Homo sapiens: one gene and its partners. The protein of the gene in region 1 interacts with the protein of each later gene in a biochemical or structural test. Each region holds a gene or a part of one and is shown on either strand. Other genes may lie near its edges. The genes, in order: KDR, ANOS1, PDCL3, BTRC and COL18A1.

Evidence for each region.
Region 2: the proteins of KDR (region 1) and ANOS1 interact in a biophysical measurement, tested with the Homo sapiens proteins (one study listed by IntAct).
Region 3: the proteins of KDR (region 1) and PDCL3 form a complex in vitro, tested with the Homo sapiens proteins (one study listed by BioGRID).
Region 4: the proteins of KDR (region 1) and BTRC form a complex in vitro, tested with the Homo sapiens proteins (2 studies listed by BioGRID, with this or other methods).
Region 5: the proteins of KDR (region 1) and COL18A1 form a complex in vitro, tested with the Homo sapiens proteins (one study listed by BioGRID).

Annotation. Positions count from the first base shown.
Region 1 is NC_000004.12:55,076,463-55,082,134, reverse strand, and holds the end of KDR (vascular endothelial growth factor receptor 2 precursor), read left to right. Parts: intron 1-93; coding exon 94-179; intron 180-1,971; coding exon 1,972-2,194; 3' UTR 2,195-3,654; downstream 3,655-5,672. UniProt on the Homo sapiens protein: Tyrosine-protein kinase that acts as a cell-surface receptor for VEGFA, VEGFC and VEGFD. Plays an essential role in the regulation of angiogenesis, vascular development, vascular permeability, and embryonic hematopoiesis.
Region 2 is NC_000023.11:8,536,139-8,542,695, reverse strand, and holds part of ANOS1 (anosmin-1 isoform 1 precursor), read left to right. Parts: intron 1-2,937; coding exon 2,938-3,032; intron 3,033-5,753; coding exon 5,754-5,925; intron 5,926-6,557. UniProt on the Homo sapiens protein: Has a dual branch-promoting and guidance activity, which may play an important role in the patterning of mitral and tufted cell collaterals to the olfactory cortex. Chemoattractant for fetal olfactory epithelial cells.
Region 3 is NC_000002.12:100,565,993-100,569,492, reverse strand, and holds part of PDCL3 (phosducin-like protein 3), read right to left. Parts: intron 2,991-3,500; coding exon 2,864-2,990; intron 563-2,863; coding exon 472-562; intron 1-471. UniProt on the Homo sapiens protein: Acts as a chaperone for the angiogenic VEGF receptor KDR/VEGFR2, increasing its abundance by inhibiting its ubiquitination and degradation.
Region 4 is NC_000010.11:101,526,920-101,533,476, forward strand, and holds part of BTRC (F-box/WD repeat-containing protein 1A), read left to right. Parts: intron 1-4,317; coding exon 4,318-4,414; intron 4,415-5,375; coding exon 5,376-5,513; intron 5,514-6,032; coding exon 6,033-6,151; intron 6,152-6,557. UniProt on the Homo sapiens protein: Substrate recognition component of a SCF (SKP1-CUL1-F-box protein) E3 ubiquitin-protein ligase complex which mediates the ubiquitination and subsequent proteasomal degradation of target proteins. Recognizes and binds to phosphorylated target proteins.
Region 5 is NC_000021.9:45,509,599-45,516,155, reverse strand, and holds the end of COL18A1 (collagen alpha-1(XVIII) chain isoform 4 preproprotein), read right to left. Parts: coding exon 6,555-6,557; intron 6,093-6,554; coding exon 5,895-6,092; intron 5,046-5,894; coding exon 4,930-5,045; intron 3,969-4,929; coding exon 3,758-3,968; 3' UTR 2,436-3,757; downstream 1-2,435. Other genes in the region: SLC19A1 (reduced folate transporter), read left to right, coding at 16-498. UniProt on the Homo sapiens protein: Probably plays a major role in determining the retinal structure as well as in the closure of the neural tube.

The DNA of each region.
Region 1 (5,672 bases):
GACATGATAGATGGGTTGAGAAATCAGCTTAATTAAATAGTTGGTCATTTTATATGCTCAATTAACTGTGCCATCTCATTGTCTCTTAAAAAGGACAACCAGACGGACAGTGGTATGGTTCTTGCCTCAGAAGAGCTGAAAACTTTGGAAGACAGAACCAAATTATCTCCATCTTTTGGGTAAGACTCAGCCATATTAAAAAGACAAATTTCAATAGGAATTTTTGGAAGGAACTTAGGACTTTCAGTGTAAGTGCAGAATTTTCCCTATGGGGTCTTTGTTGGTTGGAGAAATTAGCATCAATTTAACAAATAAAGAATGGAAACTAACCACACAATAAAATTAAGTGATAAATCTAAAAATAATCTGAAATAAATTAGAGAATTTGGTCAATTTTTATGAGAATTCATGAATACTAGGGAATTTCTGTGTATATTTACTGTGGTCAGTAATGGCTAAATGAAAAAGGTGATTGGATGTGATCCGTAAAGCTGTCAATATGATTACAATCTTTGTGGACTCTGAAGAATTTTTAAGTCTGTATACAAATGGGTGCATCTGTGCTTAAGAAGTATGATATATAAATAAGCCAATATCTATTTGTTTGAGACATTTAAATATTATTGTCTGAATTCGAAGTATTTCATTGTGAGAAAAGTATTAAAATTAGTTTTAAATATAATCTCCCTTCTATGGCTCAGTAGGAATTTGTAGGTGTCTTGAATACGTGTACGTTCTCTTAACATAACAAATCAATGAAAATCTATATTTATAAGAATAATAGAATAAGTGTAGTTATGTATTTGCTGGAGTTTATTTGCTAGAGTATTCTTACCTAAAGGTAAGAATAGAGGAGGTTTTGATCTGCTTATAATCTTTTATATAAAATGGGAATACTCATGGGTTTTTGAATAATGCTCATACCAAAAAGAAAACAAACAAAAAAAACCCCAACATATTAAAAGGTGCCATTGTGCTATTTTATTGTTTTCTTTAAGGCCCAAGGTAAGAAATTGTGAAAGTCAATGATATGTTTCATTCATTGATTCAAAAAATGTTTATTCGGCAAGTATCATGTGCAGAGCACCATGCCATTGCTTGAGACACCTACATTAGTTTTGTTGGGGTTGAATTGAAAGAAAAAATTGTATTTCTCATTATTTGAAGTAACTTTTAAACTATGTATAAACACGAGTTACTAAAATTCCCTTTTGCAGTTTTAACATGAAGAAGTTGGGGAAAACACCTATTACCGGGAAAAAACACCTTAGAATGGCTTGTGAAAGTGTAAATCCTGAAGTTTTAGATCAACACAGCCTGCATTTCTAGGCTTTGACATGATTACCGTCTGTCAGGATTCCATGCCATTGAAAACATTTTCTAGTTGCTGCTGAGTGACAGGGGTTCTCAGTCCTTCCAAGGAATGTGGTTTTGATGAGTAAAAAGCAGCGTTTGATATGTCTGGCTTGACTGCACACATGCTTCAAGTTATTAAAGTTTAAAGTTGCTCAAGAGCTTTATTACAACCATACACATGCCCCGTAATTCCCAAATTGCCACAATAGGAAAAGCACAAGTGAAATTTAAGAACATCCCAATTTCCTTGAATATCATGCAAGTGGCCCTTTGGCGCCTGTCACTGTATACAAATTTGTCAATCTGCGAGGCCATAAACATGTTCCATCAGTTGGGGCCTTTGCATAACTCGAGAGAACTGCCTTTCATCTCATTTGAGGCTTGAAAGACTTGGACCTGAGTAAGAGGACTTATCTGCAACTACTAATTCATGCGAGTACCTGAAAATAGACCTTGTCCCTGTAAACCTGCTATGCTGATTAACAACTGGGAGAGATACGGGGCTGCGGTCTCCAGGGAGATGGCAGCCATATGGAGTTGGGAATGGGGTGAGGGTAAAAAGCAAAAGAATTGTCTTCTCTCTGCCAACTCCTTTGTTTGCCATTTCTTCTGCAGTGGAATGGTGCCCAGCAAAAGCAGGGAGTCTGTGGCATCTGAAGGCTCAAACCAGACAAGCGGCTACCAGTCCGGATATCACTCCGATGACACAGACACCACCGTGTACTCCAGTGAGGAAGCAGAACTTTTAAAGCTGATAGAGATTGGAGTGCAAACCGGTAGCACAGCCCAGATTCTCCAGCCTGACTCGGGGACCACACTGAGCTCTCCTCCTGTTTAAAAGGAAGCATCCACACCCCCAACTCCTGGACATCACATGAGAGGTGCTGCTCAGATTTTCAAGTGTTGTTCTTTCCACCAGCAGGAAGTAGCCGCATTTGATTTTCATTTCGACAACAGAAAAAGGACCTCGGACTGCAGGGAGCCAGTCTTCTAGGCATATCCTGGAAGAGGCTTGTGACCCAAGAATGTGTCTGTGTCTTCTCCCAGTGTTGACCTGATCCTCTTTTTCATTCATTTAAAAAGCATTTATCATGCCCCCTGCTGCGGGTCTCACCATGGGTTTAGAACAAAGACGTTCAAGAAATGGCCCCATCCTCAAAGAAGTAGCAGTACCTGGGGAGCTGACACTTCTGTAAAACTAGAAGATAAACCAGGCAATGTAAGTGTTCGAGGTGTTGAAGATGGGAAGGATTTGCAGGGCTGAGTCTATCCAAGAGGCTTTGTTTAGGACGTGGGTCCCAAGCCAAGCCTTAAGTGTGGAATTCGGATTGATAGAAAGGAAGACTAACGTTACCTTGCTTTGGAGAGTACTGGAGCCTGCAAATGCATTGTGTTTGCTCTGGTGGAGGTGGGCATGGGGTCTGTTCTGAAATGTAAAGGGTTCAGACGGGGTTTCTGGTTTTAGAAGGTTGCGTGTTCTTCGAGTTGGGCTAAAGTAGAGTTCGTTGTGCTGTTTCTGACTCCTAATGAGAGTTCCTTCCAGACCGTTACGTGTCTCCTGGCCAAGCCCCAGGAAGGAAATGATGCAGCTCTGGCTCCTTGTCTCCCAGGCTGATCCTTTATTCAGAATACCACAAAGAAAGGACATTCAGCTCAAGGCTCCCTGCCGTGTTGAAGAGTTCTGACTGCACAAACCAGCTTCTGGTTTCTTCTGGAATGAATACCCTCATATCTGTCCTGATGTGATATGTCTGAGACTGAATGCGGGAGGTTCAATGTGAAGCTGTGTGTGGTGTCAAAGTTTCAGGAAGGATTTTACCCTTTTGTTCTTCCCCCTGTCCCCAACCCACTCTCACCCCGCAACCCATCAGTATTTTAGTTATTTGGCCTCTACTCCAGTAAACCTGATTGGGTTTGTTCACTCTCTGAATGATTATTAGCCAGACTTCAAAATTATTTTATAGCCCAAATTATAACATCTATTGTATTATTTAGACTTTTAACATATAGAGCTATTTCTACTGATTTTTGCCCTTGTTCTGTCCTTTTTTTCAAAAAAGAAAATGTGTTTTTTGTTTGGTACCATAGTGTGAAATGCTGGGAACAATGACTATAAGACATGCTATGGCACATATATTTATAGTCTGTTTATGTAGAAACAAATGTAATATATTAAAGCCTTATATATAATGAACTTTGTACTATTCACATTTTGTATCAGTATTATGTAGCATAACAAAGGTCATAATGCTTTCAGCAATTGATGTCATTTTATTAAAGAACATTGAAAAACTTGAAGGAATCCCTTTGCAAGGTTGCATTACTGTACCCATCATTTCTAAAATGGAAGAGGGGGTGGCTGGGCACAGTGGCCGACACCTAAAAACCCAGCACTTTGGGGGGCCAAGGTGGGAGGATCGCTTGAGCCCAGGAGTTCAAGACCAGTCTGGCCAACATGGTCAGATTCCATCTCAAAGAAAAAAGGTAAAAATAAAATAAAATGGAGAAGAAGGAATCAGACATAATTTCCATGTGGTTGTTTTACATTTTTACTGGTTTTCTTACTCTTCTTATAAGGGATATTTTCATAAACTGATTATATATTTTACAAACCAATAAATGTATTTGTAGTACAAAGTATGAGGGTATAATATCACCACAACTATTTTGAGGATAAGTATGTCTGGTTTAAAGTTTAACTGCTTCTTCCCTCTTCTTCTTCATTACAAAGAATTCACACACACACACACACACACACACACACACACACACACGCCACGCATACACCCCCCAACACCCACACCTCCTCCCAGCCCCCCCACACCCACACATCCAACCCCCCATACTCACACTCACACCCCCTCACAGTCACACCCACCCCCACACACCTACACACCCACCAGCACACACATACCCACACACAGATCCACCCACACACCCACACCCACCCACATACACACACCCCCCCACATGCACACCCCCACACACACCCACCCCCCACACACCCATCCACACACCCACACATCCAACACCCCCGCACTCACCCACACCCCACACACACCCACACACAACCCACCCCCCACAGTCACAACCCCCCTCACATTCCCCCATACACGTCCTACACACCCACCACACACCACCCCCACACATCCACACTCCCACACACATCCCTCCACACACACCCCCCAACACTTTTTCATATTATATTCTAAGCACTTTAGAGATGTTAAAACAGAGATATGTGATTCCTTGGCCCTCCAGTGAACTCCATATCTGTTAGAATAGCCAATCATGAAACTCAGGGGGTGAAAGACCCTGAGACAAGTGATCAGACCCATGGCAGTGCAGGGAGGCATGGACCAGATTTACAGTCTCTAATAATATTCTACTCTATACTTACAGAGTCAGAACATAAGATCCATTATTGCCATTTTGAATGATTACCATCACCCAAATTCAGTAGGTGGAGTTATTTAATAAATTATTGGCCCAAATAAGTGACCTTATTTTTTGTGATTTTTTAATACAAGATTTTGAAATGTTTATCTAGTCAAATATGCCTCTCCCTATTTTTAAAAAATGGCTCCTAGGTTTTAAAAAATTTTATTAGAGAAGGTCTTTCCAATTCTAAACCCCCAATTCTAAATTTTCTTCTTTTATTGCATTTAAATCCATTTGGGATTATTTGCATATATGGAGCAAAGTGAAATAGGAGTCTAACTTTATTCTTTTTTTCAAGCAGATTATCAATCATGGCAGCACTGTTTATTAAATATCCCTGTTTTCCCTGTGGTTGGCAACAACCCTATTGTATCATTGTTCAAAACTAGCACGTCACTGAGACGTTCTGCACAGCTTTGTGATGAAGGGTGGGGCTGTTGCTGTTGTGTGTTCTTGGGGATGGCACTTCCAGATTGGGGATGAGAACATTAGGGTCTCCTGAAAGACACTGGTAAACTGTGGGTCAGGCTGGCCTTGTAGAGAGTTCCTCATCTGTTCCTGTTGTTACAGTCTCTTTCAGTAAATGAATGGAAGAGTCTAGGTTATTTGGGATGGAGAAGACCTTGTAGGAAAACACAGGATTTTCTTCACTTTAAGAAAAAGAGAAGATTTTCTTTTTCATAAGTGGCTCTGGCATTGCTTCCAATGCCAGAAATTTGGATTCAGCTGAAACTTCACACTTTATTAAGAAATGCTTTCAGCACCTCAGGCAGAATGATTAGGAGGTGAGGTTTGGCCTTCTTCCTCTCTTTTCTGTCTTCCATGCCTCTTGTTCTTAGCATTTTTTTTTCTCCTCATTTGCCCCTGTATTGAAG
Region 2 (6,557 bases), on another chromosome or scaffold:
CCAGCCAAAGAATTCCAGAAGCCTCTAGAAACCTGAAAAGTCATGAAAATACATTCTTCCCTGGAGCCTCCAGAAAGGAGTACAGGCCTGCCTTGATTTTAGACCAGTGACACCCATTTCAGACCTCCAGAAGAGAAGACATTTATATTGTTTTAAGCATCTACACTCAAGGTAATTTGTCACAGCAGCTGTAGAAAACCAGTACATGAACTGATTTAAAACACACCAAACCTATTGCATTGGCTGAATTAGTATCCTTATTCTCAGATACAGGGAATGAGGCTCACTGAGGCTGTTGGAGTTGCTTGCTGAAGCCCACCTTCCTCGAAGGTTATGTGTGGGGTCAAAATTCTGCATCCTACAGCCAGAAAGAAAAGTGTGAATGCAAGGAGCAGTTGAGGTGCAGAAATCAACATGGTAGCTACAGCAAAGTTGAGTTTGGAAAGCCTCCACATGGGAGAGGAAGGAGGGAGCATCAGCTCTTCAAGGGACTAGCTCAGGTGAAAGTAGACATTTGGGAGCTGTCAGCAGAAAAATTTTTCAAACCATGGGAATCAATGAAGTGATTCATGGAGGTGACACAGAGAGAAGATGAAAGTGCAGTGAACTCAGACATGGCGAGATTTAGGGCTAACAAAAGGGAGGGAACCCAAAAGGAGTGCCCCATGTGTCACTCTTGATGCTGCCTCCTATGAAAATATAATTGCATTGTAAAATATGTAAAGGATTTTTAGGATATGGAGGATCCCCAGGGCAGCCAAGCCTCCTTGTATTGCTGTAATGTAGCCACCCCAAGTCCCCTGACTGCTCTTCACCAAAGACCTTCAGTCATCCGTCATGCTCCGTTCTCATGTCAGCACTTTGGCACGTGCTGTGTATTCCCTGCTGGTAGAGCATTTAAGCTGCCCAATATTGTAACCATGGCCATCTTCAGCTGTTTAAATTTAAATTAATTAAAATGAAACAGAATAAAGAATTAAATTCCTCTGTTAAACAGAGGACATGTGAAATGCTTTATAGGCACAGGTGACTAGTGTTTACCACAGACAGAACATTTCCATCACACCCGCCAGTTCTGTTGGACAGGACTGGCTGAGAACACCCTCCCACAGGTCTCTGCAGTGCCACTACCCACTGCTACACCTTCTTCAAGTCCTGACTCAGAATTGAACACACGCCAGCCGCCTTATATAAAATCAGCACTTTTTGTCAATCCACCCTACTGCCCTTACCTTCTGGTTTTTTTTTTGTTTTATTTTTTTGTTTTTTTGTTTTTGGGGGGGGGGTGGTGGGAGACGGAGTTTTGCTCTTGTTGCCCAGGCTGGAGTGCAGTGGCGTGATCTCGGCTCACTGAAACATCCGCCTTCCGGTTTCAAGAGATTCTCTGGCCTCAGCCTCCCGAGTAGCTGGGATTACAGGCGCCTGCCACCACGCCTGGCTAATTTTTGTATTGTTAGTAGAGAGGGGGTTTCACCATGTTGGCCAGGCTGGTCTCAAACTCCTGACCTAGTGATCTGCCTGCCTCGGCCTCCCAAAGTGCTGGGATTACAGGCGTGAACCACCGTGCCCAGCCACCTTCTGTATTTATATGTGGACTTACTACGTTCTAACATAATATCTATCTTATCTATGTATTGTATTTATTCTCTGTTATTATTGGCCCCATTACTATGTAAAATTCAGGAGGGCAGCAGCCACTCCTGTGTGATTATTTCATTGCTGTTGAATGGAAGAACATGAACACACTCAGTGATTGACTTCAGCGTTGTGCATAGCCTATAATTCTTTTTTTAAAAAATAAACTCTTGATGTCTGCTATGTAAAAATTAAAACCTCTAGTACATGATTTCTCTTTTAGCTAAATGCCCGGAGTGCCCACTTTTATATCTGTTTGCTTTCTCGGATTTAAAGTTCTTCTTTTCTGGTTCCAAAGTGCTCAAAGCGAAGTTCCCACTAGATCAACCCAATTTCATCAAAGAGTTTTCTCCTCTGAAAACTCCCATCAAACACTTGGCATGATGTTGGGGGACAAGATGTTAAATCACCTGCAAAATGGTGCCATTTGGTGCCATTTCACACTCCTCGGACACACTGGGGTGATTAATAAACCCGAGACTGTCAAGGTCTGCTTTCCCACACTCATTGAGTTGCTTGCCGCTATTTTATCTTTTTTCCCCCCACTTTATTGTCCAAAGTAAAGAAATGTACAGAAAATATTCCTCTTGCCCTGGGAATAAACGTGTTCAAAGGGTCAGTCTTCTGGCCTGTGTTTGAGAACACCAAGTCATATTTCAGTAGGGATCAGCCATACAGAAATGCCACGATGCGCTTGGTTAAGGGAGAGTGGGAAGCATACGTCCCTATCCTTTGGACAAAAGAACTTCTTTATGGCAATACATAACAGGAAATAAACGTGGATAGCCAATTCTGCAAGTGTGAAGGGAATGTTTTTGTTCTTGTGTGGATTCAATAGTATCTCATCTTTATCAAAAAAAAAGGTAGGATTGAGAAACTTCTGATGATTCTCTTTTGCAACAGGAATTACGAGAGCTGTTGCTAGGTGTTGCCTTTCATTGTAGGGCTTTGCTTACTGTAAAAACCATGGCTAGGTTATTCTCAAGACATCTTTGGAATCATTTTGCTATGAATTTACTAATTTTTTTTTCTACTTAGTGCTTGCACTTCAACACAGGTTTTCCCTTGGCAGTATATTACTTTTTTCCCTTACTTTGTTCTTAATGATTAAGTATTCAGAATTACTAATTATTATAATTATTAAGTAATCAGAATCTCACCTCCTTTGGCTCACTGTGCATTTATTGGTCACCTGTAGAGTTTCATTTCCTCTCCTTTTCTCCTCTCAAGTTCAAGAACCCCAGGCTACCTGGAATGTAACATCCAGCCTATTATTTTTGTTTGCGTGTTTTGGCATTATAGATCCCACTGTCAACCGATATCATGTGCGGTGGTTTCCTGAAGCGTGTGCCCACAACAGAACAACCGGATCAGAGGCATCATCTGGCATGACCCACGTAAGGACATGATCTCTAGGCCAACTTGATCTGTGAACATAATTAGACAGGAGGATGTACAAACTAGACAGGTCAAACAGATAACTCATTCCCACAAATCAGCTATGGAGTAATGACTTGATGGAAGTGGAAAGCAGAATGGTCATTATATTCACTCATTCTTTTATCCATTCACACCATTGCACTGGGAGCTTACTCTGTTATCCACATGGAGCAAAACCTAAAGTGCAGAGACTAAAGACACAGTTCTTAAAGAACTCCCATATTTCAGGGGGAAATATGTCTGAGTATGTGTGTGCTTCATCTTAACTGGACAAAAGCTTTGAATTATTTTCTGAATTTTGACATGTCACCGTGATCTAAAGGTGTAATGGTACAAGTGGATTTCTATGTGACTCTATCATTGAGCACCATGTCCCTAACTGCCATCAGCTCAGTTAGTGAAATAATCTCCCTGTCCTGTATAGCATGCACCAATATTTTGACTTTCAACTTTAAGAGAACATTAAACTCTCTGAGGATAGCAACTCTGTCAATATTGCCCAAAATGTTATTCCAAATATTTTGGGGTTCATTCATGAATTATAGATTAGAATCAACAAACTAACACAAAATATTTAAGAGGTCATTTTATTATACAGTGTATAATACACTTTGATGGCAGTTTATATGTGATACCTCAGGACAGTTTAAAAAATCCAAAAACATGGCCCCAAACATAGAATGTTTTGGTTTGTGATATGTAACTAGAATATTTTTGTTTTGAACATTTTCTAAAGCAAGCACGATATTTTAAGAACCATACCTGCTGGCATAATTTTAAGAGAGTGAGATAAAACAAGTCACTGGATTTTCAGAAATACACAGATTCTTTTTCTTTTTTACTGGACTTAATTTGTCTCATGTTCAGCAATGTTTCTCCTTGTATTTATCCTTAAATTAGCTCCAATGTTTGTGACCTTCAGTAAAATAATTAAACAGACATTCTAAATAAGGAAGTCGATTTGAAAAGCAGAGAAAGCAATAAACAGAAGCTGGAATTATTAATATTTTTGTGGGCAGAGGGGTGAGGTTTTTGTTTTACTTATATGTGTGTGCCTCAGAACCTTACAGAACTGGGCTTATGTCAATGCAATTCCCCAATCCTAGGCTTATCATCTTTAGGAACTCTGAAAGTGGTAACAACTATTTGCTGAGCAGATGTAATGTATCTGGTAGAAATAAAAATCAAACTCCTGAAAAATTATCCTTCTAGGGGTTTAGAACTTATCTGTATTTAGTTTTAAACCTTTAGATCCAATTATTATAATTTGTTTTTATGCTACAATGGAGCATCCACTAATTCACTTACTGCTGCAGATGTCTGTCTCCTATGCAATATGAAAACAATCTTGAAATATCTGTGAAACAGGATCCTTAATAGCTAACCTTGGATTCCAGTATAGTCCCATGTAAAGAGCAGATTTATTTCCAAAGAAAAGCAATTCAGACTCCCAAAGAAACATGGTGGCCTTGGCTTGGGCTTGGGTTGGGCTTGGGTTGGTCTTGCGTTGTCCAGATTGATTTGTTTCCTATTCACTGTTTGTGCTAACTGGCTGCAGAGTTGGGTGCACCCCATCTCCTGTCACCATCTGGATGAAGGGCCAGCACACCTGGAGGTCACTCCCGGTCTCTTTTGAACATTCAGTGCTCTGTCACCTGCAGCCACTTCCACTCCTCACTTAAGTAAATCACTCAAGCCTCAGTTTTGATTTTAATTCTTGTCTCATGTTTTTCCCGTCAACGCTGCTGCTTTCTAGCAAGATCCCCTACCCATCATCCAATGAGTGCCAGAGATATTCCATCTGTACTTTTTTTCCTCTCTTAAAAAATAATTAAACACACACACACACACACACACACACACACACACACGTAAAAACCATGGAGTCTCACTATGTTGACCAAGCTGGTCACAAACTCCTGAGTTCAAGCGATCCTCCCACCTCAGCCTCTCGAGTAGCTAGGACTATGACACGAGTCACCATGCCCAGCTATCCATCTGCACTTTTATACATATACATTAAGAATTGGTAAATACAAAACAGAATGGATAAGTGCCATTTAGCCAAATATGAAAGAAACAGAGATACACACCTGTTATCACAGGAAATGTCATCTTTTGACATTATCATAAAGTTATATTCTTAGCCCGTGACTCCTTACCATTTAGCCTCTTTCTTTTATTTATATTTAATCACAACATTATGGCAGAAAACAGTAACAGCACTCCAAAAAAGGGAAAAATTATATTGCTAAAGAATATCATCATTTTTTAACAGAAAAACTTACATATAAACTAATTCTATGTCTCAGAGAAGCCTGCGTTAGTTTTTTTTAACTGAAAAAAGTTAGATTTGTATTTACAGCTTTACACCACTACCTGCACTGCTACCAACTCAAAAATGCTGATTGCGACCTTAGAAGTAGCCTGCTTTGATGAGGAATTATTATGATACTGTTTAATTCTAGAAGGCATATCCCGCAGCCATGGGAGTGTTTCACAATTGTCATTAATCAAAATGTGGACAGTATGTGCTTTGTACTTTTTATAAAAGCCATATTGCACACACTATATAGGAAAACATCCTTGTTGGATGGAATATGATTTCAATTCTTGCCAGTGTTTTTTAATCCCTAATGAGATTTATTGCTAGCATAATTCTCTTTCTCTTGCTCTAGGAAAATTACATAATTCTTCAAGATCTGTCATTTTCCTGCAAGTATAAGGTGACTGTCCAACCAATACGGCCAAAAAGTCACTCCAAGGCAGAAGCTGTTTTCTTCACTACTCCACCATGCTCTGCTCTTAAGGGGAAGAGCCACAAGCCTGTTGGCTGCCTGGGCGAAGCAGGTACGTTTTCACCTGAAGGACTTCTACATCTAGGTCTACGGTGTCAGCAGCGCTTTGCAAACCTTGTCAAACTGCGTTTCACAAGACCGTGAAAACCAAAAGTGCCTCTCTTTCTAAGTTGTGTTATGATGGCCCAATGTGGAGGGAAGAGATGTAGGAATGAATGTGTTATTTTAAAGCCTAACAGGCTTGGAAAGATGTCCTTTGATAGTAATGTTATCCCTTTGGAAATGAAGGCAAACATTTAGATACCGCTTGTGTTTTGGGAAAGTTTGATATAATTATTTCATTATTTTCCCACCCCTTTGCTGCGTGGGTTATACTCACACACTTTCCATGCCAACCTGGCAAACCTCACATCTGTACCTTCCATCCCATCTCCTTGCCAATGTCCCTGTCTTGCAGTGGGAAAAAGTCTTTTAAATGCCCTGGATTTGGCCAGGCATGGCGGCTCATGCCTGAAATCCCAGTACTTTGAGAGGCTGAGATGAGAGAATCACTTGAGCCCTGGAGTTCCAGACCAACATGGGCAACATAGCAAGATCTCACCTTTTAAAAAAAAAAAAAAAAAAAAAAAAAAAAGCTTCGGATTTAATAACTCTTCTAACAGCTTTAATATTTACCTTCTCACT
Region 3 (3,500 bases), on another chromosome or scaffold:
GGTTTATTTATTGGTCTTATGGCAAAAATCTAAGATCAGTTTGCTAAAATTCACAATATTATTTAATTGCAGTCGCTCCTAGATGTTTCAGCTGAAAATTAATTTTTTGAAGGACACACATTTCATTTTATTTTTTGAGACAGAGTTTGGCTCTGTCACACAGGCTGGAGTGCAGTGGCACAGTCTCAGCTCACTGCAACCTCCACTTCCAGGGCTCCTGAGTAGCTGGAACTATAGCCGTTCACCACCACACCCAGCTAGTTTTTGTATTATTTATAGAGACGGGGTTTCACAGGCTGGTCTCAAACTTCTGAGCTCAAGCGATCTGCCTGCCTCAGCCTCCCAAAGTGTTGGGACTACAGGTATGAGTCACCATGCTCAGCCCACACATTTTATTGCCACGCCAAAAAAAAAACCAAAACAAAACAAACAACAACAAAAAAACAAACAGCCCCTCTGGGTGGCGCTTACCTGTACATTTCAATAGCACGTTCATCCTCCTCATTAAACTCGTCTTCATGATCCTCCAGCTCTTCCAAAGTCATATCTTCATATGTTTTCACTGAATTTGGTTACATTGGCAAAAAGCAAAAATTTAAAAAGATGAACGAACATGTATTTTTCTTTTTTCCCCTCTCTTTTCTCCTAAAGATATGCACACAACACCAGATCCTTAGCCTACCTAAACAAAAATTACTTAAGGCACCACACTACATTAGAAGCTGAGAGGCCAGGCATGGTGGCTCACACCTGTAATCCCAATTTATTGACTGACAACATTTTACCCAAGCCCTCAGATCCTCCTCCCCTCTCTTCTCCTATTCCGCCTCACCCTGCCCCGCTTATTTTCCTTTTTTTGGAGACAGAGTTTCACTCTTGTCATCCAGGCTGGAGTGCAATGGTGCGATCTTGACTCACTGAGAACCTCCGCCTCCCAGATTCAAGCAATTCTCCTGCCTCAGCCTCCTGAGTAGCTGGGATTACAGGCGTGTGCCACCACACCCAGCTAATTTTTGTATCATTAATAGAGACAGGGTTTCACCATGTTGGCCAAGCTGGTCTTGAACCTTCTGACCTCAAGTGATCTGCCCATCTCAAAGTGCTGGGATTACAGGAGTGAGCCAGCCGCCCTACTGTTGAACCCTTTGCTGATTAAAATTCCCCAGGCTCAAACCTTTGACTACTTTTCTTCTTTATCCACACCCACTCCCTCGGTGATTGCATCTAATCTCATGGCTTTCAGTGCTATCAATATGCTGACAACTCCCAAAGTATAGGCCTCCAGCCCAGACTTCTCTAATGTAGAGAAAAACATACCCAAGGGCCCTCTTAATGTGGCTATTTGTCTAATAGGGATCTCCAAGTTAATGCATCCCTTGGCTGGGTGCAGTGGCTCACGCCTATAATCCCAGCTCTTTGGGAGGCTGAGGTGGGCGGATCACTAGAGGTCAGGAGTTTGAGACCAGCCTGGCCAACATGGTGAAACCTCATCGCTACAAAAAATTACCTAGGCGTGGTGGCACATGTCTGTAATCCCAGCTACTCGGGAGGCTGACGCAGGAGAATCGCTTGAACCTGGGAGGCGGAGGTTGCAGTGAGCCAAGATTGCGCCACTGCAGTCCAGCCTGGGTAAGAGAGCGAGACTCCATCTCAAAAAAAAAACAAAAAAGAGAAAATGTCACTCTTCTGTTTAAACATCCAAAAGCTTCCTGCCTCATTAGGTGTAAAGGCCAAGGTCCTTACTAGAAGCTTCTGGGTCTGCTGAGGCTGCTCTGAACTCTCTCCCCCAGCGCCTCCAGCTCCTCAGGGATTCCCAGCCATGCCAGGGCCCATATTTCACTCGCTCACGTCACCCCCTTCAGGAATACCCAGATGTCTTCTTCACCTCCTTCAGGTCTCAACAACTCCCTCAGGTCTATTCAAATGTGTTCTTCAGCTCCTTCAGGTCTTTACCCAAATGCCAGCTTCACCTCCTTCAGGTCCATGCAAATGTCATCTCAGTGAGGCCCTCTCTGAGCCTGCTTCTCCTCCAACCCTTTCTAGTCCCTTTTACTGCCTTATTTTCTTTATTGTTTATTGTCTGTCTCCCCCACTTGAATGTTGGTTCTCTGAGGGCAGAGAATTGTCTCTGGCTTATGCATAGCTAAATCCCCAACCCCAGAAAAGCACCTGACAATGATAATCATGCAGTAAGCACTCGCTGGATACTTTCTAATAAATCCTTCTCTAAATTAGCTCTAATGTGTCAACAGAGGACAAAAGTACTAGTCCCTGGGACCAGTGCTTCTCAAACTATGACACGCATCAGAATCCTTTAAGGCACTTGTTTAAAATGCAGATTCCTGGGCCTCATTCCAGAGACTGCTTCAGTAAACACTAGGTGGGTGGGGTTACCAGCACTCCAAGGGACTCCAATTCAGACAGTACAACTGCCTTTGAGAAAACCCCCCTCAGACTCCCACACATTGCAAACATCTTATGCCTCCCCAAATGAAGCAATTTTTAGTTAATATCCTCAATGAAACCACAGAAAATAAAGTATATGCTCAGGAAAATACAAGTACTAAAAACCTTGAACAAATTTCCATGACATTATCAAAGGGAATCACAGACCAGAAAGCAGAAAGAAGTATTTTCTTCAGTGCTCATGTGACATGGACAAGGACTTGTGGGACATATCTGAAGTCCCCTAAGTCTATGGCTCAGGAAGGTGAAGGTGAGAGACGCCCTGTGTTTTGTCTGAGGTCCCACAGACACAGAGTGTCCATGCTGGCACTCCAACCTGTCTCCTGGCAGGGCAGTCAGAGGCTTAGGGAGCCATCTCCTAACCCAGACAGGTGCAGAGGAAAGCGAGTGAACTCACCCACTGACTGCTGGAGGATGCGCTGCTCCTCTTCTGCCTCCTCTTCCAATTCTTTCAGACTTTCCTTGGGGGGTAAGATACCCTTTTTGCGTAAGATGTCATTCCATTCAGTGTCTGCGTTGGGGTCCTAGAAGAGCGGGACCAAGGTTACCATGAGTGCTAAGTCTAGTATGTAGGGTGCCACGTTGGGCAAGGGGCCAAATGGGAAAAGTGACAGGAAGGGAGGAATGCACACCAGTCTGTGAACTATTTCTGAGAAAGTGTCAAAAGATCCATAGCCCCCGTTTTGTTTTTCCTGTCTACCCCTCCCTGAATGGAGGAGCTATTCTTGGGGTAAAAATTAGGATAGGGAGTGCAGATCAGTATCAATACGGATACCAAGGCTCTGACTTGGCATGTGTTCAATATTTTTAATAATGACTGAGAGTGCCGGGCACAGTGGCTCACGCCTGTAATCCCAGCACTTTGGGAGGCTGAGGCAGGCGGATCACGAGGTCAGGAGATAGAGACCATCCTGACTAACACGGTGAAACCCCGTCTCTACTGAAAATACAAAAAATTAGCCGAGCGTGGTGGCGGGCACCTGTAGTCCCAGCTACTTGGGAGGCTGAGGCAGGAGAATGGCATAAACCCGGGA
Region 4 (6,557 bases), on another chromosome or scaffold:
TTAGCAGTCTAAGAGACTTCACTAATTTTTTTGTTGTTCTCTTAACAGTACTATTTCATTAGAACTTCTGAAAGATATCTTTCTTTAAATACTTTTCTCTCAGAGTATGTCTCTAGAATGTCACTATAGGAAAGCTACGTAGTAATAGTTCACAAATAAAGGTGACATATTAAATATTCTCATTGACAGAAAAAATTATAATAGGCATGTGTGTGCTTAGTGATGTCCTTCCAAATTAATTTTATCAGTTGTTTATCTTGGATCATAAAGAGGAAAACAGTTAAAAGTAGAGAACACTTTTAAAAGATAAATATTCATGGGCCAGCTTTCCTTTGAATTTTCATGAAAAAGTAGTTGGCTCTCTTTCTTTTTTTCTATCTTTGAAATTTATTAACACATAATAAATACAATGACCTATAAATATTATACCAAATGCCTCAGATTTTTATCATTCTGGCTATTAGGAAGACTGTTTAAATTTTTCTCTCAAATTGAATTAAAGGAACAAAAAAACTAGGCAATTTTTAGGCTGTGTAACAAAGAATATTGTTGGCCGGGTGGGGTGGCTCACGCCTGTAATCCCAACAGTTTTGGAGGCCAAGGCAAGAGGATCGTTTGAGCCCAGGAGTTTGATACCAGGCTGGGCAACATATTGAGACCTCATCTCTACAAAAAAATCAAAAAATTAGCTGGGCCTGGTGGCGCATGCCTGTAATCCCAGCCACTCAGGAGGCTAAGGTGGGAGGATGGCTTGAGTCTGGGAAGTTGAGGCTGCAGTGAGCTGTGGTCATGCCACTGCACTCCAGCCTGGGCAACAGAGCAAGACCCTGTCTCTTTCTCTGTCTCTCTCTCTCTCTCTCTCTCTCTCTCTCACATACACACACACACACACACACACACAAAAGAATATTATTACTACTTCTCAAATATGTTTTTTAATTCTTATTTCGCTACATAGAAAAATAGAAATCTTTCATAACCTACTTCATACTTTGGAAATAAACTCTTTAATAGTACAACAAAGCAAATAAAAATGGAGTTATATGGTATTCGGGGTCCATCATTTTGCTAAGAGTGCTGGGACCAGCCTTGGGGATACAGCAGGCAGTTGCTTACATGAGAAAATTTTAGGGCAGCTGAGAAGATTTCTGTATCCCTCAGAAAAAAAGAATCTCGTCTCCAAATAACTCCTGAAATTTCAGTTAAGGAGATTCATTCCTTTAGCTATAAAGGTTCTGTTACCTGTTAAAATACATTGTGTTCCCATTTGGACTGTAAATGACAGTAAACCTTCATCATAAATTGGGAGTTTACTGAGTCCTTTTTTGAAGGCAGAAAGATCAAGAAGTAAGTGGGCAGTTCTTGGCAGATGGATGTGAAAATGCCAAAGGTAAAAGGCTCCACAGTTTTGCTTGGGATTGGCACTAAATGGCAAGATCTTTTATGTTAGTTACAAAGAAAAAACAATCATTGAGAAGATGGCTTTTGAGCCTTTCTAAAGGGTAGGTGAAGTAATCCAGGATCCAGCACTAATTACCACTTTTTTCCCCTATCTCTTTATCCACAGAAACCCATTCCCGCTCTTTTGAGTATCCTTCAGAGTTCTGACTATATCCCCTTGTCTTTGGGCATGTTTATCCTCTTAATCCCATGATAAACCCATGAAATTCCAAATACTTATACATCCCGTGTCAACTTCCTCCATTATTCCCTCGACTTTCTTGTTGCTGCTTCTGTTTTTACATGTTGACTTTATTCCTGTGTCAGTTTTCTTCCCTTTTTTAAAAAAAAATTTACTCCATCAGTTTCTCATTTTCTTCTTTCAAGTTGTCTTACCAAGCCTAATACGTCAATAAAGTCTTTCTGTGTTATACTTTTCCCCATATGCTAGCTTTGAAAGGTTCTTCCATTTCTACTAACCAAAAATAGTAAGTAAATACAGTTTTCTAATAAAGCTTTTATCTCTAAGTTTTAACTTGGTATTTGATGTTGTATTTTATATCTAGATGGATTTGACAGTCTTCCCCTGGGACATGAACTCTGTAGTTTTCTCTCTTGAATAATACTGAATATGCTGTCTGCTCAGTAATGGTAACTCTTAAAAGTATAATAAAAGACCACTTGGGAAAAGTCAATTTTCTTAATCAGCAGATCACATTTTATGATAACATTCTGAATTTAATATTTAACGTTTATCATGTACTCACATTCTTGTAGGTACTAGGCATTTCACATAGAAGTAGTCCCTGTTTTCAAAGATCTTCCATCATAAAAGGTTTTGACTTAAAACATAAAGACAGAAGCCAGTTTTCAGTACCTAGCCACCTCTTTCTGTAACACTTTGATTTGAAGAAATTCAGATACTTTACCAAGACATGGTAAATGCAGTGAGGTGGAAAACAAGATCAGAAGCTTATGTGAGTTCTCTTTCCTTAGAATGTAGATAGTATCATTGCATAGGAAGAAAGTCTTGGAGTGCTAGAGATTAAAAGAAGACAGGAATCTCAGGAATGGTGGGCATTGAGAAACAATAAAGTAGTTAAGAATGTGGGTGGGCTCAGGAGTCAGACTTAAAATCTTCACATTCAAAATCTATTATTTGCCTGCAAAGTGTTTGTAGAATAATATTGTACAGAGAAATGTACCATTAATCTGGAATTCTTTCATAACGCATCTTGTTTCCCCTTTTGTTTATGCTGGTGTATCATGTTTCATTAATCCCCCTTTTTATAAGTATTATTTTCACTTCTCTATTTCAGATTTTCTTTTCTGTATTAACACAGAAGTTAGAGCCATCTACCTTCCTGATAGGAAATTTTCTCAACTAATTTTCAGGGTATATAACAGGGAGAGGGCAGGGGAGAAACACTCCTGGAGACACCAAACAATTAATTATATTGTAATGGAGCTATAGAGGGAGGAGTGGATGACTGGCCCAGAGAAAACATGATTTCTCTGGTGCCAGGATTACACTCAGAGGCATTTCTGCCTCTCTCCACTTTGCAAGGCACGGTGCCAGTGAGAACAGCAGTTAGTACACCCATAGTGGGGTTTACTAGCTTCCACACCGTGTTTGGTGGGTTCTTAACTTCCGGATGAGGAATTAAATTTTTTACCCAGCAGGAAGTGATTGCCATTTACTGATTTTTTTTTTGTAGCAAAGATCTAGCTTGGGATACGAGTATTCCAGAGATGTGCTGTCATAAGGAAGGAGATACTAACAAATGTTGCTCACTGGAATCAGGGAAGGCAGTTAAGTACATGTGTATGTACACAGCCAGGAACACACCTGTGAAAGTCAGTTTCATGCCTTAGACTTGATAGCAGTGCTCTTAGGCATTTCTTTTTTTTCTTCTTCCCTAGCTGCTGCTGGACACACCTGTGATCCTTTTGTTTTCTGATGAAATGAACTGAATTGCTCCTTTCAAAGCATAGTTGCACTGATTAGCAGCAGCCTGGGTGACTGAGCAGCCACCACACCTTACCCTGTACAAATAAAGACCTAGCAAAAGTGATCTCCATGCCAGAGGCATTGCTGCTGTCTACAATGCTGGGGACCACTGACACAGTAAAAGGGAAAAAAAAAAAAACCTATAGGGCATGTGCTAGTTCAAAGGTAATAGTTACCATTACTAACAAAATTTCCAAAAGATGAGGCCAGTGAATCTAAGCAGTAGTCTTAATAGAGCAATAGATGAATTCTGATTGTACATATTCCATTTGTTTACTGATATTATAATATTCCTAAAGGCTTGGTACTCCGATGTTCTACACTGGAAATAATCATGTTTTACCCAAAAGCAAATCAGTGTTGGTCAGATTCTTTAGAGCCCAGAAGGTTACTCTTTGACATGGGACTCCTGAAATCAGGCTTACCTTTGCTCCTCCGCAGACAGCTATGGAGAGTATATGGAATGGTAACCGTGAAAACACTTTCAAAATATATGAAGTTCCTTATAAATATATAATGTCGGCCGGGTGTGATGGCTCACGCCTGTAATCCCAGCACTTTGGGAGGCCAAGCAGGCGGGTCATTTGAGGCCAGGAGTTCAAGACCAGCCTGACCAACATGGTGAAACCCCATCTCTACTAAAATACAAAAATTAGCCAGCATGGTGGCAGATGACTGTAATCACAGCTACTCAGGAGGCTGAGGCAGGAGAATCACTTGAACCCAGGAAGCGGAGGTTGCAGTGAGCCAACATCACACTGCTGCACTCCAGCCTGGGCAACAGAGCGAGACTCTGTCTCAAAATATATATGTATTTAAATATATAATGTCATGATTTTCACTGGGAAATATTTGTTATTTTTTAGGGGACAGTATTTATTCAAAAACAAACCTCCTGACGGGAATGCTCCTCCCAACTCTTTTTATAGAGCACTTTATCCTAAAATTATACAAGACATTGAGGTAAGAATCTATGTATTTTGGGGTATTGCCCAAGGGCACAGAATTATCAGCATTCTTCAGTCACAGTATGGTTACAGCAAGCCCATTAAGGTTTATTGACATGAGTTGGGAATCAATCTCTTAGCTGGCCATGGTGGCTCACACCTGTAATCCCAGCATTTTTGGAGGCTGAGGTCAGGAGTTTGAGACCAGCCTGGCTAACATGGTGAGACCCCTGTCTCTACTAAAAATACAAAAATTAGCCAGGCATGGTGGCACACACCTGTAATTCCAGCTACTCAGGAGGCTGAGATAGGAGAATCACTTGAACCTGGGAGGCACATGTTGCAGTGAGCCAAGATCGCACCACTGCACTCCCTCCTGAACGACAGAGCGAGACTCCATCAAAAAAAAAGAAAAGGAAAAGAAAATCAATCTCTTTACAGGCGAGTAGGGTAGGTAAAATAAATTGCTAGGCAAAATTTTAAAGCTTTAAAAAATGGTTTACTAATAAGTAGATGAGAGAGTTAAAGAGATTGATCCCTTCATACATAGCAGTGTGACTGGTAAACTTGTACTCATAAGCTCATATTTAAATATCTTCTGAATTGAACCTCCTTAGAAGTTCATCAGTAGCAATCAGTAGCAATGGCCATCACATATGTAAGAGCACTGAGTGTATAACCTCACGTAGTTCGTAGCTTTTCTTCTCTTGATGAGTAGTCTCTTTCCACCAGATTTATTATTTAATTGAACAAATTATAGGCAGGGAAGTTCTAGGAAACAACCTTTAATTACCTTGCAAAAGGAAGAATATTTTATAAATATAGATAGTAGCCTTTTAAAGACATTTTTTAGTTTTCCCTAAGTTGTGTATATCCCATAGAGTAAAGCATTGAGCCATTGATTGTCATTAAAGCCTAAAAAGAGTTTGATTCTAGGTGTTTCCTAACACTGCCTCTTTCCCATTCCTTCTTCTCAGACAATAGAATCTAATTGGAGATGTGGAAGACATAGTTTACAGAGAATTCACTGCCGAAGTGAAACAAGCAAAGGAGTTTACTGTTTACAGTATGATGATCAGAAAATAGTAAGCGGCCTTCGAGACAACACAATCAAGGTGAGGTCTATTCAGTTGTAGAAAGGTAGCAGAGGGAGCAAGAGTGACCACATTCATAGCGCAGTCTAAAGCATAAACTCTAAGCATTATTTCTAGAAAGTAAGTGAAGATTTTAGATTGTTTCCAGTCCCAAAGCCAAAATCATTTCCTTAAAGGACAGACATCAGCTTCCCCACTATACAAACGGGTAGTCCTAGGGTTAAATTCTCTTCTTGAAATGCACTGAATGGGCTGTTACTCTTTTGGCCATCACATAATTATAGACTACCCTGTTCCTTAATGAAAAGGATAAAAGTTTGCATTAGTACTGAAGCTATATGTGTGTGTGTGTGTGTGTGTGTGTGTGTGTGTGTGTGTGCGCGTGTGCGCGCGCGCGCGCTTAGCTATACCTATAGAAAATGCATTCCACACTACTCTGGGCTTTGATTATTTTGGGGGATCAGACACGTAATAGGACCAACAAGTCTCCACAGCACCCCATCATCACATTGATCAAAAGGATCTTATTTGCCATCCTAGATCTGGGATAAAAACACATTGGAATGCAAGCGAATTCTCACAGGCCATACAGGTTCAGTCCTCTGTCTCCAGTATGATGAGAGAGTGATCATAACAGGATCATCGGATTCCACGGTCAGGTAGAAAATTTCAAATGCTTTTTTGAACTCTGAAATATCAGCTCTGCTCTGTTCTTTGTCATAGATAGTAATTTTGTATATATCGGCACAGTTCTGAAACTAAAGAAGAATAAACCACCAGGTCCCCATCATTTCTGTCAGTCTAGAACTAGAAAACTTGATTTAGAAATGCTTGAGGTAAGTTTACATTTTCGCACATTGAAGAAACTACACATTCTATTTTAATTTGGAGGATCATCTATTACAGAAACTTTTCTTATCCTTATGGTAAACTTTGCATTCCTTACAAAAACCACCTCACGGGGGAATGATATGAATGCAATGAAGCCTTCCTTTCAGGTAGTGGTAACTGTAGTGCAGGTCTGTATTATCTCCTTTGAAACATGTACAGGTGAGCTGTGCTCTC
Region 5 (6,557 bases), on another chromosome or scaffold:
GGCCTCTCTTTCCAGTTCCAGTTATACTCCGTGTACTTCCTGATCCTGTCCATCATCTACTTCTTGGGGGCCATGCTGGATGGCCTGCGGCACTGCCAGCGGGGCCACCACCCGCGGCAGCCCCCGGCCCAGGGCCTGAGGAGTGCCGCGGAGGAGAAGGCAGCACAGGCACTGAGCGTGCAGGACAAGGGCCTCGGAGGCCTGCAGCCAGCCCAGAGCCCGCCGCTTTCCCCAGAAGACAGCCTGGGGGCTGTGGGGCCAGCCTCCCTGGAGCAGAGACAGAGCGACCCATACCTGGCCCAGGCCCCGGCCCCGCAGGCAGCTGAATTCCTGAGCCCAGTGACAACCCCTTCCCCCTGCACTCTGTGCTCCGCCCAAGCCTCAGGCCCTGAGGCTGCAGATGAGACTTGTCCCCAGCTGGCTGTCCATCCTCCTGGTGTCAGCAAGCTGGGTTTGCAGTGTCTTCCAAGCGACGGTGTTCAGAATGTGAACCAGTGACTCTCGGGCGCCCCTGTGGTAACTTTGCAGGCGGCCCTCAGTGCATCCCCACGACCCCTGCCTCGAGGGCCGCCTGCCTTAGCAATGGGGGCCTCCGCTTATCCTGCTAGCAGGCCCCCTAGGATTCCCCCTGCCCTGTGCCGCACTCTGGCGGTGGCCACAGCGTGCTGGCGACACTCAGGGCAGCTGCCTGGCCATGCTGTCCCTGCACTGTGCCCCGCGGGCTTTGTTGCTGGAAGAGGTGGGTGGTGGGCTTCTGCGTCCACCAGGCCTCACTGGCTCATGCCCCTTGGGGGGCTTGAGACAAATCCTTTCTGCCCCCCAGGGCTAGTGAAGTGGCCTCTTGGATACCAGCTCAGGGGACACTGGCCCCACAGGAGTTGTGAGCCCTCTAGGGCAGGGTGGGAGCCGGGACCCTCAGGTGTAGCTGAGCTGTGACATTGCTGGTCATCCTTGGTGCTCTTGCTTTTTTGAAAGATGCTTTTTTTTTTTTTAACTGACGTAGAATGAAGAACTGCATGTGGCTTCTCTGTCTCTGTGGAAAAGCCATCTCAGGTTGGCGGCAGACACATTGTCATCAGAGGGGAGCAGCGGCTCTGGTCCTCGGAGCTGGTTCCTCTCTCCCACCCTAAGGGCAGCCCTCCATGGTCCTGTCTGTCCTTCTGAAGTGTGTCCATCCTGACCTGCGGGTCCTCAGCTGCTCCCACACTTGTGCCAGCCCGGAGGGGACTGGTCCCGGTCACCGCGGACGTGCTGGCCTTGGTATGTGCCAGGCTTGCCTGGGCTGGGCAGCCTTGGGGGGGCTGCCTTTGTGGTGGGCGCTGGGGAAGTACGTCCCAGCGGCCTCAGGGTCTAAGGAGCGCTAGTGCCTTGCCCACAGGTGCGGGACCATCTGATGTGATGTGAATACTCTTCCCACATACATTAAACACACTTAAGTGAGTGTGCGCAGGGCTTCTGATTCAGGGCCGGCCTGGCCTGGGGGTTGAGGGTCAGCAGTCAGTGAGGAGGCCAGGAGAGGCGTCCCAGCCTTCTCCCGCCTCCAGCCCACGCAGGGCCTTGGTGCCCATGAGCTGAGCACCCCCACAACCCTAGTCAACGGCCCTATCCTGTGGGGCCTCTGCCACATCTCAGCGGCCCCAGGTGAATGGCTGGCTGCTCAGCACGGAGAGCTGGGGAGAGAATCTCTGGCTGGGGAGGGGCTGCTGGAGCTGCTGGACCCAGGGGTCTCCCGAGGTGGCTCAGGGGAGCAGGCATCTTGGGGTACCCTGGGTTGAGGCAGAGGCTGCACGTGGAAGATGGCCCGAGTCAGTGGATGGTGCCAGTCAGACAGGGCCATGGTCCCAGGTGCATCCAGGGGCTCTGTCATGGCCACCCTGGGGACCCTGCTTGGGGGGGGGTCTGCACCAGCCATTTCCTGGGCTCGTAGATCTAGCAGGATGTGATGGGTGGAGGTGGGCTGGGCCTGTGCCATGGGCTAGAGCGTCACTGGGGAGGCCCACACCGCCATCAGAATCCTCCTCCCAGCGCCTCCCCAACCTGAGGGCCTGCTCCCTCCGCAGCCTGCTCACTGCACCCACTGCCTGCCTGCCTCTGAGTCCTGCACTCACCCGTCCACCAGGACAGGGATGGCTGTCAGGATGTAGTGTTGCTGGGAGCAAGTCAGGTCCTGCTGTGAGGAGAGACCTAAGAGTGTTGGTGTGTGTCCACACACCCGTGCATGCCTGTGTACCTGTGCACACTATGGATGCTCCTGCACACCTGTGTACAACTGCACGCCTGTGTATGGCCATGCATGCATACCCCATGTAACCGTGCGTGCCTGTGCACACTCGGGATCTGCCAGTGGGGCAGTCCAGGGATAAAAGACTCCTGAGAACTCCTTTTGGAGAATTGTGTCCTTCCTGTGACAGTGAAGGCTGCTTGCAAACCAAGAGTCAGTGTAAAAGGTCACTTTTATTTGCCTGTCTGAATTGGCTTCACATCACACACAATTACAGAACCAGCCCCACCGGTTTCGTCGCAGTCCTGAGGCAGGTGCGTGTTGGCTGTGCTGTGGTCAGCCTGGCGCTGCCCTGAGTCCACTTGTCCCTCCACAGAACGAATGACTCGGGTTGATGTTGCCGGATCTCAGGGGTGGCTGTGACTGACAGAGGACCTTGTTGCACCTCGTGGCTGCTTTGTTCACCCGCAGGGCGGCCTGTGGGCACCCCGGGGTTCCCCTTCAGTCCCAAGGAGGGTAAGGATATGGGTTTCCTAGGAGACAGCCAATGACTGCCCTGCATCTGGAGCCAGCCTGTCCATGGGCAGTGCACAGATGACAGCCCTCCCTCACTGCCCTGTGTGCTGGCTACCGCATGTCCTGTGCCAGCCTCAGCCTCTTTGATGTGGCCGTGTTCCATCCTGGCGCTCAGCTGGACAAGTGCTGGCTGAGCCACGTCCCAGCCAGGGGCATGAGATGGGGGCCCTGGATGGGAGGCTGCCAGACCCCAACTCATGGGTCCCTTGAATCTCCCAGCTTGGACTCGGCCAGGGTGGAGCTGTCTGCTTTGGATGTATCATCTCATGGCTCATTTGGGAGGCCAGCCCCAGGCTGCTGTGCTTGGTGTTGGAGGACAGGCCGGAGCTGGGGGTCACAGTGCGCCTCTGAGCTTGGGAACCTGCTTCAGCCTGGGGTTGCTGTGGAGAATGGCCCAGAGCTGAGCAGAAGGGGCTCCCCCTAGCCCCAGGGACCTGAGCCTCCCTCCCATCTACCGCAGGGCGAGCACACACCCTGGAGGAGCCCAGATGGCCTTGTGCTGAGTGTGGCCTCAGCTCCCATTGCCTCACGGGGCCTGTCTGCTAACAGGTCTGGGTTTTGTGCACAGAACGGTGCTGCTAGGTGGGAGATGAAGTCAGCACCTGCTGGGGCGAGCACGGCTTCCCAAAGCAGGAAATCCTGGAGAAATCGAGCCGTGGTCTGATCAGGCCAAGAGGTTGCACAGGGCATGATACTGCACCCTGCCTGACCCAGCTGGGCTCACAGGTCAGGGGAGAGTTGGGGCAGGTGAATGTCAGCATCAGGCTTCTGTTTTAAACTTTTAAAAAAATACACTCTTTGGCTTCCTTTTATTTCTTGAGGATTACATGAAACGTGAACTATACAGGAAAGTATGGCAGCCAGGTCCTGGGGCCAGGGGCTGGCCGGCCGCTCCCTGCCCACGGTGGGGGCTTCCTCCGAGCCGCCGGTCCTCTCCGGCCATCCGCATCCAGGCGGTGGCTACTTGGAGGCAGTCATGAAGCTGTTCTCAATGCAGAGCACGATGTAGGCGTGATGGCAGCTCGCGGCACTCTGCCCCAGGAGCCTGCCCCCCAGCAGCGAGGAGGCCTGGCCCGTGGCCGAGGGAGCCTCCGTCCGCCACGTCTCACAGTAGCTCTCGGTCAGCCTGCGCCCGTTGGGGTCCGAGCCATGCCACACGCTCTTCTGGGGCCTGTAAGACGCGCCGGGCCGTCAGTCAAACCCAGACCTGCTCTGCTTAGGGCAGAGGCCGCTCCCCGGGCAGGAAAGGTGGAGGCAGGAGGCCAGCCCTGGGGTTACCAGGGGGCTGCAGAGGCTCCCACAACCTGGAGGGCCACATGGCCTCCCTGCTGGCTGCCTGTGGAGGGGGCTGCATCTCCCAGACTGCCCCCCATGCTGCTTCTGCCAGACACACCCACGGCAGAGGGGAGAGGGGCCAGGGCTTGGCCTGGCTGGGTGAACCTGGCCCTCATGCCTGCTGAGCAGAGGCTTCCTGTGGCTGCCTCGCTAGGAACCAGCTCCGCCTCCCGGGCTCCTGGCTTTCAGGCCTTCCCTGGGGCCCAGCCCTGCCCACAGCACTCCTGTCAGAGACCCTTGGCAGGTGCATCTCCGTTACAGCAGATGGCCAGGCACTGCTGGGGACACGCTGTGTGGCACCCCGAGACACCCCTAAATGCATGAGTGTTGGAAGAATCGCGGCGCTCACGTGGGGAGGGCACAGCGACATTTGGGACGAAGCGTTCTTCTAGATACCCTGGAAATTTCTGTCAACATTTTAAGGGCACACATGCTCGGACTCCGTGTTGCCCTTTGAGGAGTTTATTCTCGGTGAATAAACTCGCTGCGCTGCTTACATGGCTGACCACAGGCTTGGTGACATCCGGGAGACATGGAGTCTATCCGCCATGAGCAGAGGGCCGGGGGCACCTTCGGGGCCTTCTTACAACTACCTGGCTCTCAAACGCATTGCTAATGATGACTTCTCAGAGCAGTTCTCATTTTTCTCAATGCTCTTTTGGATTTTGTAATTTTAAAGTAATGAGCATGTATAAGATTTGTCCAAAAACTCGGGGGGAAACTGCAGATAGGAGCCCGCCCGCCCGCCTTCCCTGGCTGGGGCTCTCAGAGCTGCTCACACGGCACTGGGAACCTACCAGGTGGGGTGCCTCAGGACGTCCTTGCCGTCAAAGGAGAAGATGCGTGCCCCGGGCTTCAGCGGACCCTCAGAGCCTGAGAACAGAGCCTCCCAGCTGGGAAACAGCAGCTCGTCCTGGAAGAGAAACCGTGTGTATGTGTGTGTGGTGTGTGGGGGTGTGGATGGGTGTGGGTGTTTGTGGGGGGGTGTGTGGATGTGGGGTGTGGATGTGTGGGGGGGGGGTGTGTTGTGTGTGTGGGGTGTGGGGGGTGTTTGGGGGTGTATGTGGGGTGTTGTGGGTGTGTGTTTTTTTGGGGGGTGGGGTTCTGCAGCCCCTGGGCATGTCCTGCCAGGGAACAAGCGTGGGGGAGCCAGGCCTGGCCAGGCAGCCTCTGCAGACCCCAAGAGGCCTTGGCTAAGGCAGGGGACCCTGTCCCCTAACGCCAGGCCACAGCCGCCTGCTCCCAGCCCTGGGTCTCTGACCCCTCTGCTGTTGGTTCTGGGGAATGTGGGTGCTCCCCGGGGCACCCAGAAGCCACAGCCCAGTGCACGAAAAGGGGCCACAGAATAAAGCCACATGGGTGCTGTGGCAGAGGGGCCACCAGCCCGCATGGCACTAGAGGCCCAAAGGACGGTTCCTGATTCCAGGCTTGTATGTGAGCCCTATCACCTGTGTGGACACTTGGTCCAGCAGCATGGGACCCTCTGAGGGGCACTGCCGGGGGAGCGGGGGGTCAGGGGGCCACGGGGGGGCCTCATGGGATGCCCTGGGGGACGTGGCAGTGCCCAGGGATGCAGAGGCCTGGCCTGAGCCTGGAGGGGTGTGACCCACCCGGAGCCTGCCCTGAAGTCGCCAGCCTAGGCGCCAGTGTCTGTAACATGGTGGCCTCCAGAGGCCCTAGAGGGGAGCTCCCCGCTGGGAGTTCACCCCAGAGGTCAAGTGGGGGCCGAGGAGCCCGCGCCCTCAGGACTGGACTGACCCACCTTGAGGTTGACGATGGGCACGGCTGCGCGGTCGGCACGGCGCACGATGCTGTACAGGTCCTGCAGGCGCGAGGACAGGAAGGCGCGGAAGGTGCCCGCCAGCCCCACGGCCCGCGCCTGCTGGAAGCACTGGAAGTCGGCCCCGCGGATGCCCCGCATGCCGCCTGACAGGGGGCTGTTGAGCGCAACCAGGTGGAGCTGCGGGGAGAGGGGCGCGTCACGGGCTGTGTCCCACGCTGCCCCCTGCACCCAGGCCCCGGGCGCACCACCCCGGCCCCGCACCTGTGTGGACAGGCACGGCCGAGGGGCGCTGAGCGGGAGGCGCGCAAGTGACACACTGAGGGGCCCAGGCAGCAGCCCCCATACGCTGCCAGGTCAGAGCAGCCCCGGGCCACGTGGGTGCCCCCAGCTGCCGCTGTAGGCGGAGGTACGCCGGTTCCTCAAGGATGTGACAGCGGCTGGACTTTCATGACCACTGCTTGGCCACCAGAGGGCAAGTCCCAGGGCCAGCCAAGCCGCCCTGAGTGGCCCTGAGCCGCCAGACCCCCACCCATGGCCGAAGCCTGGGACCCCCAGCAGCTCTGCAGGGGCTGGGCCCTCTTCTGCTGCCGAGAGCCGAGGGGCTAGATGGAGCCAAGCCCACTTTGGGGGGGCACTCACCAC